2 separate regions of the Homo sapiens genome follow, and region 1 is linked to region 2. The links come from fine-mapping of genetic effects on gene expression. A gene starts in region 2. The other region holds a variant in brackets. All regions are shown on one strand. Distances are from middle to middle.

Region 1 (5,367 bases), 70 kb before region 2:
CATTCTACTTCCATGAGCCACCCCCACTCCCAGACCCTTGTAATAAAATTTCCCGTTTTTACTTAATCCCGTTGGAGTTGTGTCAGACTAGGAGTTGCCAACAGGCATTGCCTCCTCAGTCTGTCCTCGCCTTCCTCCTTTCTAAAGGAGCCTCTGCTTCATGAGGGCAGGAGGCAACCTGCCCTGCTCAAAACTTTTCCTAGTCTTTCAGGAAGAGGTGGCCCATGAGATGAATGAGGAGGTTGTCAGTGGGGCTTACAGGGACGTGCTCTAAGAGGGCTTCCCTTTTTCCAGAGTGGTTGGCAGATAGGAGGAATGGTGCCACAGTAGCCATCTGCAGCTGGTAAGTGACCTTTAGCCATATGCTAAGGATTGCAAAGCAGATCAAGTCAGTCTTTGCAGGGGAAACTGGAACAGAAAAATATGGGCCCTGTGGGGTGGTCATCTTTTTTTTTTTTTTTTTTTGAGACAGGGTCTCACTTTGCCGCCTAGGCTGGAGTGCAGTGGAATGATCACAGCCACTGCAGCCTCAACCTCCCAGGCTCAAGCGATCCTCCCTCCTCAGCCTCCAGAGTAGCTGGGACTACAGGCACATACCACCAGGCTGGGCAATTTTGTTTTTTGTTTTTTTTTTTTTGTAGAAACAGAGTCCACTGTGTTGCCCTGGCTGGTCTCAAACTCCTGGACTCAAGCTATCCTATCACCTCAACCTCCCAAAATGCTGGGATTGCAGGTGTTGAGCCTACCTGAGTAGTCATCATCTTCTTCTTTTTTTTTTTTAGACCGTGTCTCTAAAAAAACAAAGGACGTGACCTTTAGCCATATGCTAAGCTAGGTGGAACCTGGAATGTTGAAGATGGAGCCAGCTCTGTTCTGTCTACCTCCAGACTCCTTTCCTATGCTTGCTGTGTCTCTCGTTTCCTTCTCTGCAAAATGGGGAGAATAATAACACCCAGCTCACAGCTGTTGTGGAGATGAAATAAGTTATTTTTATCTAACAGGCCTAGAACAGCATCTGCCACAAAGTAGGCATTGTATAAGTGCTATTATTATTAGCGAATAATACAGTCTCAACTAGTTTAAGCCCTTGCTTTTCACATCTCAATTATATTAACTAAATATAATTCCTATCCCATACAGTTTGGTTTCTCATACGTACAACCAAATACTCCCAAGACAAACAGAAATTTCTATTTCTAACACGTCTGTCTGATTTGATGTTAAAATAATTCCAGAATTTCCCCACCAGCAGTGCATAGCCAATCCAATTATCCCGAGGGTTGTATAGTATCATAGAAAGCCCTGAGCTTGGGAGGCTGCTCTACCTGGTTGCAAACCTTGGTTTCATCACCTGTGAAATAAGGTTAATAGCTTCTTGCTTAGAGAGACTGCTTTGATACACCCAGAACTAAGTCTGGTACCGAGTAGGCTCTTTATGAAATCCATTAATATTAGTTTACTAGTATATGTAAAACATATTCCACTAGTTACCTAAGTATCTGTTCATTCATTTACATAATACTTCACTGAGCATTTACTGAACACCTACTATGTGCTGGGCCCTGTATAGATGAGAAAGCGGGGAGGAGGGAGGTTCACAAGACAAAACCATGGTCCTTGCCTTCAAGGAGCTTACAGTCTAAAAGAGGAGAGGAGACATGTCTCCAGTGAGCACAGACAGCGACCCATGGCCCCGGGTCTGGATGGGGAAGGGGGCACAGATGGCCAGTGCCTTGCCCTGCCTCGGGCCTGCTTGGCATTGGAGCTGGGGCAGGGTGCTCTAGGAGTGGGGGAGGGGAGATGCAGCACCAGCCAACTCCTGCTATTTTGGGAAATCTTCAGCAGTGAAGAAAGCATTTTCCCAAATCTTTGGCCAGAGCTTCTCTTGCCTTCTCTCACGCTGCTGTCCCAGTTCCCTGTGGGTTCTGGGTTTGGGGTCACTCTTATGGTGCCTGGAGGCGTGTGAATGCACGCGCATGTGTGTGAGAGAATGCACGCCCATGCACACGCCCCCTGAGGCCTCCCCACCTTGTATGGGACTTCTCCTGGGCTCATTTTCCCAGCACAGAGATTAGGAAGAGGGTTTGCTGTAACAGGGGGAGTGAGTGAAATTGGCGAGTGACAGTGAAGGAGCGCAGAGAAGTGGGGGCAGGAGCCAAGGCCGGAGCAATCAAGAGGCCTGCAGCTACACAGCGACCGGTGCCCTCTGCTCAGGGGCGAAGGATGACGGAGACAGAGGCTAAGAGAGTGTGTATCAGAGCTGAATTCCCCCACAGAGCGCAAACCAGTCTCCCAACAGGTGCCCCCTGCACAACCGAACCCTCCCCCGTTTTCAGACAGGGGATCGCCCAGACCACCCCGGGGTGGGTAGCAGCTGAGTTGCTGGTACCATTCCATTCAGCACGAGGATGCATCGGGCCGGCTCTCCTGCAACGTCCAGCAAGACAGATGCATGGGTAGAGCAGCGGGAAGCAGCTGATGTGAGTGCCCTAAAAGGGAAAAAACGTCCTGGGAAAGCGGGTGACGGGCTGCAGTCAGGCGGGTGTCTAAGAGGCCTCACGTAGAAGGCGGAACTCTCTTGAAGGGAACAAGGGTGGAGCTTCCCCAGCCATCAGGGGCGAAGAGCATTCCAGACAGAGGGCACAGCAGGGGAAAGACTTGGCTCTGGCCTATCCTTGGACAATCTGGAGAAGCTGGTGGAGAGAGGCAGAGAGGGAGATGAGTCTGGAAAGCAGGACCGAGGCCAAATCACAGTGAGACTTGAGCACAAACCTAAAGATTCAGGAGTTTTCCCTCTGCTGAAGAGGAGGATTTGTGGATAGTTTGGGACAGTAGAAAGATGTGGTCAGATCTGTGCATGCTTTGGGAAGTTTGGTGGCAGTGAGCAAGGGGACAGGTGGATTAGAGCAGGCCATTTGTCAGCAGGGCAACTCTAGACATTGGGAAGCTGGTCTTGCACCCAGAATGCAGCTGGATCTCAGCCCAATTTGCAGCCTTGTGGAGAATTCCCCAGTCCAACTGTGGGGCTTGGCTCCAGACAGAAGCAGGGAGAATGAGGGATCAGGCTGGAAGCCGTGTGGCCCACAGAGCTGCACCCAGGCAGGAGCAGCA[C/T]GGCCACTCATACTGCGGCCGACAAGGAGGTCCTCTCCAGGGTAACCTCACACTTCTTTTCTTTTTAGTGTAAAAAACCATGAAAGGGTGTCATCAGGAAGAAAAAGACAACCTACGACCCTAAAAGATGGGGGCTTGAGTACAAATGCCTGGAGCATATTGACAGCATGCTAGGCACTGTGCTAAGTAAGCTCTTTCCCTGCAAGATCTCACAGCAGCTTTGCAAGAAGGCCAAGAGGTGCCCACATAAGCATCATTCTAGAAGCTGAGGCACTTGCCCAAGGTCCCCCTGCCACTGCCAGTGAAGCTGGGATTTGAATCCGCGACTGTCTGCTGCATAAGCCCACACCCTGGGCTGCTACACTCACCATCCTCCCTGGAGGACAAACTGGCCCCAGCCTTATCGTTGCATTCCACAGCCCTGGCTCCAAGTGCTCTCCAAGCAGCCCTCCCAGTTTAATTTGGTTTTCTGAGTTGGCTTCCTTACTAGGGAGAGTGCTTTCTGGCTATAAATTATTAAGCTGACTTCCTGCTGCACACCAGCCTCCTGTGAATTTGGGCTGTGGGAGGCAGTTTTTCCCAGGTCCTGAATGGCTCCAGAGAAACAAATTCTAGAGGTTCCAGATGGAGAGGGCAGACTCTGGAGCCCCAAGCCCAGAGTGATGACAGCCACCTGGCAGCTTCCCCCAGCCCAGGCCTGACAGCCAGGGGCCAGGGTGGGTGGGAAGGAAGGCGATGCTTCCTTTAGTCCCCACCTCCAGCTCAGTCCATGAGGACCTTTGGGGAAGGTGATTCAGGCCAGTCCTCTTCCCCAGGTCCCCTCCATCCTTGCCTCCATTCAAAGTCTCCACTTGGCTTCCTGCCTGGGAAAGGGGGAGAAAAAGAGAAGGAAAATAAAAGAAGAGGAAATAGAGGGGAAACCAAGAGCAGGGAAGAATGTGTACTGTCTGCAGTTTGGCAGGAAGGGAAAGCATTGTGGGGGCAGCCCTCTCCTGCCCCTGCCCAGGGCCACCGAGTATGGTGGCCCACAAGTGGGCTTCTCCGTGGGGGTGGTGAAGGCATCTTCCCACCCACACATCACTCACCACTTGTGGGGCCAAGCTTAGCCCAACTCAGCACAAAGATAAGATTGAGATGCAGATGCCTTCCCATTGCTCTGAATAGAGCAGATTTGATACGGATTTTCCTCTTTTCTTCCCTTTTAGACCATCTGGGGGACTGGGGCCCAGAGGGAAGATTTGGACCAGAGAGGCAAGGCAGAGGGAGGAAAGCCTTCCTAGCACTTTTTAGCTCTAAAATCTATGGGGGGAGGGTATGGGGAGCCTCTCCTACCCCCACCCCCTTGCCCTCTCCCAGGGGCAACTTCATCCCCTGCCTCTGCTTTCTGCAATCTGGGCTGAGTTCTTCTCTCTTCCATATATTCCTAGAAACCTCCAAGTCACGCATGTGTGTCATGAGTGTTCCGGCAGTCCTCCCTGCAGTCCCACCCACATCCCTCCAGCTGCAATGGGGAAGATAAAAGGAACAAGGTGATGACCAAAAGTTTAACAAGAAGGGCTCTGACACAGATTACATGGTTCAGCACTGTACTTTATAGATGAAGAAACTGAGGATGGGAGGAGACAGCAAGATTGGGCAGGGAGCTCGCGGCAGAGACTAAGTAATAGTAGGATTAAGTAACAGTGACAACAACAATAACAACCATGTTATTGTGTACCCAGAAGTGGTCTATGCTCTTTATATTATGCCGTTTAATCCAAACAATAACCCCGTGAGGCGGGTATTGTAATCGTCGCCATTTCGTGGATGGGAAAACTGAGGCACAGACCAGTTAAAAGTAACTTGCATGAGGTCAGACTGGTAAAAGCTGGATTCAAACCCAGGCAGTCGGGCTCAGGAGTCTGCCCCTTACTCAATGCCAGCACACCACACAGGACACAGCCATTTAGAAAATGACATTATTTGACATAGCCATGTGGGTGGAGCCCAGGCCACTCCAGGGAATGTTTGCAGATGGCGAAAATCTCATAAACATGGTCTATAATCTTCTGTATTTGTGATCATAGAGACTGGTCTTGCTCCTACAAACAGAGTAAGTCAACACACGGTAAGGAATGAAAACAAGAAGAATATAACAAGAATGTTTACACCACTTGGGAAAACAAAGTGTGAACATCGTGAGGGCAATTGTGTAGAAGACAGACATGTGGAGGAAGATGGACCAAATGCATGCACAGAGAGCATGCAGCCATCGGG
Region 2 (5,367 bases):
GGAATGGGGACAGGAGATCTGAATCCAGTCTTTGCTCTGCATGTGGAACCTTATATCAATGGATGTGATGTGCTCAGATTTGAGTAAAACAAGATGGCTCCCTCAAGGAACTTATCATCTGACAGAAGAATCTTAATGGGCCCTGAGAATGAGGGTGAGCCAAGGGCCCAACAGGTCAGAGGTAGAACCAGGCCATGAGATATTCCAGTCAATCCCCAAGGTACAGGGAGACAAGATAACATGTATATCCAAGGCAGATGAGCTCACTTCTTAGAATCTTAATATCTTTATCTATAGATATAAGGGGTCAGGCTACTTAAAGGCTGTTAATTGATTTTGTTAGGATCATTTCACTTGGCCAGTTTGGCTTTGAACTCCCAATTGTCCATAAGCTGGGCCACTCTAATTGCCTGATCAACACACTGTGACCTGCCTGCCCTCTGTAGGCATTTGAATTTGTGCTTCCCCTGACATGGACAATCTCCAGGGCCTCTCCCAGCTTTGAGTCTCAATAAGAAGTGACCACTGTAGGGTCTTTCAAACAAGCCAGGAAGTTCATCCTAAGACAAGAAAGTTTCTGGGGCTCCTCCAGTCCTAATGGGGAGGTAGCAATCTACAGTGTTGGGCTGGACCTCTCGGCTTCTCTGGTTTTCTAGTCTGGCACTAGAAGTGGTAAAGGAACTTTTTCCCCTCCCTAGTGGGAAAGGAGGTGCTGGCTGTCCTATCTCAGGGCAGAGTCAATAAGCCCAGCTCTCTGTCCCACCTGAGTCATCGAGTTTTTTTTAACCCTTCCTCTCCTAAACCCTTGGGTCATCAGGCACCTTGCTGCCTGTACAGCCACTGCATGTTCCTCTCCATGTTCTCCCTCCCCAAACACATAGACAAGTGTCTCAGGATCAAACTGGTGAACTTACTAACCTCTCTGGGCATGGGCTCGGCCCTGTACCTCTTTTTATCTACCAGCATTTAGCATGGTGCATTGCACATAGTAGGTGCTTAAACAGTGTTAGATGTCCACGGTGATGATTATGGTCGCTACTGTTGGCTTTGGAGGAGGAAGGCTCTGGCACTGGCTGCTTGGAAAAAGAAAAGGGATGGAAGATCTGCCATTCCTTCCCAAACTGGTGGTGATAGGTGTTGATATGGAGAAAAGAGCTCCCCCTGAAACCCACACTCACCTACACACACCTTTCCCAACACAGCAAGCCAGAGGCAGCCCTGCCCCGAGTGGTCTACCCCCACGCCCCAAGGCCCAGAACAGTTCTCACCGCCCCATGAGTGACCAAGTGGCAAGTTCCCCCATCTCTCCTATATTTTATCTCCTTTCCTCCTCCGTTGAAAATCTAGACTTCGGGAAAGGTACTGGCTGTTTCTTTCCAAGCTGCTTTCAAATCTGCCCCCCTTTTCCGTAATCTTGAGGTCCAGTTACAAGGTTCAAGTTCCCCTCTTGCCCCTTCCTCAAGGTCATCTGTCCCGGCTTAGAAAAGGTGAGAGGCCACTGCTGATTGTCAAGAAGAGAACAGGCTTAAAAAGATGAGCTGAAGTGGGGAGGCCGAGGAGCAAGCAGGCAGGGAGGGCTGTGGAGAGAGGCCCCGAGGCCGAAGTGGGTTGGGGTGCCTGAGAAAAGCGGAAGGAGGTCGGATTCACTAGGGGCTGAAGGAAAAAGATGGGGTTAGGGCCAGAGAAGGTAGGATCGTGGTGAGGTCTAGACACAGGCAAGCTTCCAAACCCTCAGTCCCAATTCCGTTGGCCGGGAAGGAGTGCATGCCAGGGTAGCCCGCCCTCCCGGCTCCTGCTGCTCTCACCCCGCCCCTCTGCAGAAAGCCTGGGCAGGATCGCAGGGGTGCGGGCAGAATCCAGCGCTCCTCTCTCCCCATCCAGACTCTCGGCCCACTCCCGCCTGGCGCGGCGGGCAGTCGGAACTACCCAAAGACTGGGCTCGAGGTGGGGGGCGGGGGCGGGGAGGAGGGGGCCAGAACGGCGCTGCAGGTGATCCTCCTCCTTGTTTAAAGTTTGCGGTGGGCAAAGGAGTCGGCTCCGTTGGGCCGGGTTTTCTCGAGCCTCGCCTTCTTCCTCCGCCGGTCCGGCGACCACTTCCCTCTTGGCTCCCGCCCCGCGCGGGTCCCCGATCCCCTCTCCCGTCTGCATCCCTCTCTGTGCCCGAGCGCCCCCCGCTCCCTCCCTCCTCGCTGGATCTCCCGCAGGACGTGAGCGGAAAGTGAATGGGCAGCCCCAACCACAAAGACAAATTACCATGAGAAACATAAATCGGGAAATCGCCGCTCGCGTCCCTGCTTCCAGCTGCCGCACCCCTCTCCACCCTCCCAGCCGGGAGTGCGGGGCCCTGAGCCACTGCCCCTGGAGCCTGGTGGGCAGAGTTCACGCTCCGCAGGCCTGGTCAGGGCAAGAGTGTCCTGGAGGCGGGTCTGGGAAGAATCCGGGCGGCGGCTCCGCAGGCGGCGGCGGTGGAGCAGGGACGTCCCTGAGCGGGAGATTTCACACTCTGGGCGGGCCACGCGTTCCCACGCGCCTCGCCGCCCGCACTCTCCCTCAGTGCTGTTTACTAGCCGGCCCTCTCTGAGCCTCCATCTCCGCACCTCTGTCCCTCCGTCCCTCAGCCTCACTCGTCCGTCTCCTTCTCCAGGCCTGGGTCCCGGGTCCCCATCGCCGCTGCAGCCCAGATGCGCCGACCACAGCCCTGGCAGGGCCCAGTGCAACCCGGACCCAAGCTGGCTGGCGGCGGGAACGCAGCAGCGATGAGGGCTCTCAAGCCGAGGTGGCAGCGGGAGGCGCGGAAGCCAGGGGACCCCCTGTCCTCCCGCCCGCAGCCTCACCTACCTGGCTTCAACTTGCCAGAGCCCGGACCCCTACCTCTCTACCCCGATACCCACCCGAGTTGCTGAAGTTTGCAAGTTGCAGCCCCAACCCGCGCAGGGGAAGCGCCCGGGGCTCCCGGGACTCACCTCCCAGAGGCGGGTGCAGGTGCCCGGTTCCCCGCGGCTCCCGACTCCCGGGCGGCGCGGAGCGGCGGGAGCTAACCAGATGGGCTGGCGGCCGGTCTGGGAATGGGGCGGCCGCGCAGGAACGGCCTCCAGCTCTCAGCGCTCCGGTGCAGTCCCCACCCGGGCCCGCGCCCGCTGCGCTCGGGCTCCCAGCAGCCGCTGGATGCGCTGCCGACCCGCCCGGCTCGGCGGAGCTGGGCTCTGGCACCAACCCCCGCGCTCCAACTAGCTCCCGACCCGGCGCTCGGAGAGAGCAGGGAGGAGGAGACCGCGGGAGCAGAAGGAGGGAGGGGGCGGTGGGGGAGGAGTTGCAAGCAAAGGGAGAGAAGGAGGGGAGCGGGAGCGAAAAAGAGGAGGGGGCTGGAGCAGACCTGCCGCGGCGGGCGCTGCACCCGCCAGCCTCGAGGCGCGCGGAGGAGCGCGAGGGGGCGCCCTGCATCCCGCGGCTGCTCGGCCGACTCCCGCCCCGGGCCTGCCGAGTGTGGTGACCAGCCCGGTGGGCCGAAGCCCCTTCCCCGGCCGGCATTCCGGCGGCAAGACCTAGGACTCCGAGCACTTGCCGCCGTTTGCCACATCCCGCCTTGCCGTTCTCGGTCACCCCATCTCGAATGTGACATCCCCGAGGGCCATCGGCGCGGCCTGCCCACCCCAACACTCAGGGCCTGAGGAAGCTCCCCCAAACCCCACTCCGGACTCCCACATTCCCCAGCCCCGTCAGTTCGGAACGATCTTCCTGCCTGTGGATTTGAAGGGGAAGGGACCTCGTGTAAAACGGGGGAGAGCCGTTATAACCTGCAGCGGCAGAGAGGGAGGCTAGGCTGCTGGGCTGGGCTGGAAAGCCAGAACTGGCCGGATTAGGGTTAACCTTGCAAACTGTACGATACCGAGCGAACCTCTCCAAGCCTCAGTTTCCTCAGCTGTAAACTGGGGTTAGTAATACGCACCCTACAGAATTGTGAAGAACGAGTAGGGGATACGGGGAGTAAAATAACATCAGGAACAGTGGGAGGGCAGCCAAGAGATGAGCGATCCGGGGAGGTGGTGGAGCGTTCTCAGCTGAGGACGGAAGGTTTAGCGCAATCACAAGGAGCGAGGCCGAATTGTTTACAAGTTTAAGTGATCTAGTGTTTCTGATGGCTAGAAGGCGGGAGAGAAAGATTCAAGGGGCAAGCTTCAAATCCTAGCTGCCCGGGCTGCAAGAGGGATGGGAAGGGAGCCCTCTGCTGAACAAAAAATATATTTGAAAATGTAAAAAAAGGTGACCTAAGAACGAGTGAGAAAGACAAAGGATTTGAAAAATTAAAACCAGGAAAGTGTGATTCTAAGAGATAACCAAAGAGAACTATGAAATAAAAATAGATAAGTTGGAGGAAGGAAAATATCAAAAGACTTTCTAGAGTATGCCAAAAATTGGATAATTAGAACAAAGTCTGAGTGAAGCATTTTACATAATAAAATTCTGGGTAAAGGAAAACCCAGATAAAGCAGAAGAATTGAGACACTAAGAGCCCCAGAGAAGCACCTCCTGCCTGCCATCCTCCTACCCCTGGACCATGGCAAGAAGCAGTTTGACAGGATAATGGGAAAGAAAGGGTGGTTCTGAATCCAAGAAGGGAGTTTATGAGACACTGTAAAAAGAGAAACAGTGCAAGATCTCAAAGATAGACTTTCTAGGGCAACAGAAATGCTGAAACTCATAATGTGCAGAATGGAGAGAAACTTGCAAAGGGAAAACACGCTCTGGACACAAAGGCAGAGATGCAGAGAAGAAAAGAAAGGAAACGGGCATGTGTGGGCATACCAGTCTGGTAGCCCAGTCTGGGGTAAAAATCAAGTTGGAAGAGGCAGCATGGGATATTGAGTCCAAATCTATCATTTTATCAACAAGGACAATGAGCTCTGGACCATTCTCCCAGAGTCCCAGGCTGAGATAGGGATAGGTCTCCTGATCTCCACCGTGGAACCTTTCCACTGCAATGAGCGTGCCCCCCCCCCAACCCCCATTCCCTGCAGAGCCATGGGGAATGTTTTTGTCATCACAAAAAATAGAAGTATGTGCAATATAGAGATACCTTTTAATTAACACAAAAAACCACGAAGCTATTCCATACTGCAGGACCAGGGAATGAACAGGAGAGCTTCCAATTTGTCTGGTTGGGAGAATAGACAAAATGCCTTCTGAGTGGCTCTGTCAGCCACAGCTCTCCCTTGAAAGATAACCAAAATATTCTCCACCCTTCACACATTCTCTCACCTGCCCTCTTGTTTGCTACCATGTTTTGATTGTGTTCATTCTTTTCTTCCCACTATCATGTCAAGGCCTTTCCTGGCTCTCCCTCTCCATGTTATAAAGTGGAGAGGGGGT

What was found. PIP is the estimated chance that this variant, and not a neighbour inherited with it, causes the effect. A credible set is the group of variants that fine-mapping cannot tell apart.
Region 1: its variant is the best candidate, but not a certain one, in a credible set for the expression of SEMA5B in tibial nerve (GTEx, PIP 0.58).

What each region holds. Positions count from the first base shown.
Region 1 is chr3:122,954,347-122,959,713 of GRCh38, forward strand. All of the region lies in intron 2 of SEMA5B (semaphorin 5B), which reads right to left. Among named protein-coding and RNA genes, the nearest start is that of LINC02035, 71 kb to the left of the region's middle. The variant C/T (reference allele first, on the strand shown) is at 3,112.
Region 2 is chr3:123,024,501-123,029,867 of GRCh38, forward strand. It overlaps SEMA5B (semaphorin 5B), which reads right to left and starts at 3,263. Exons shown (of 23, transcript NM_001031702.4): 1 at 2,964-3,263. RefSeq lists an enhancer at 3,867-4,374.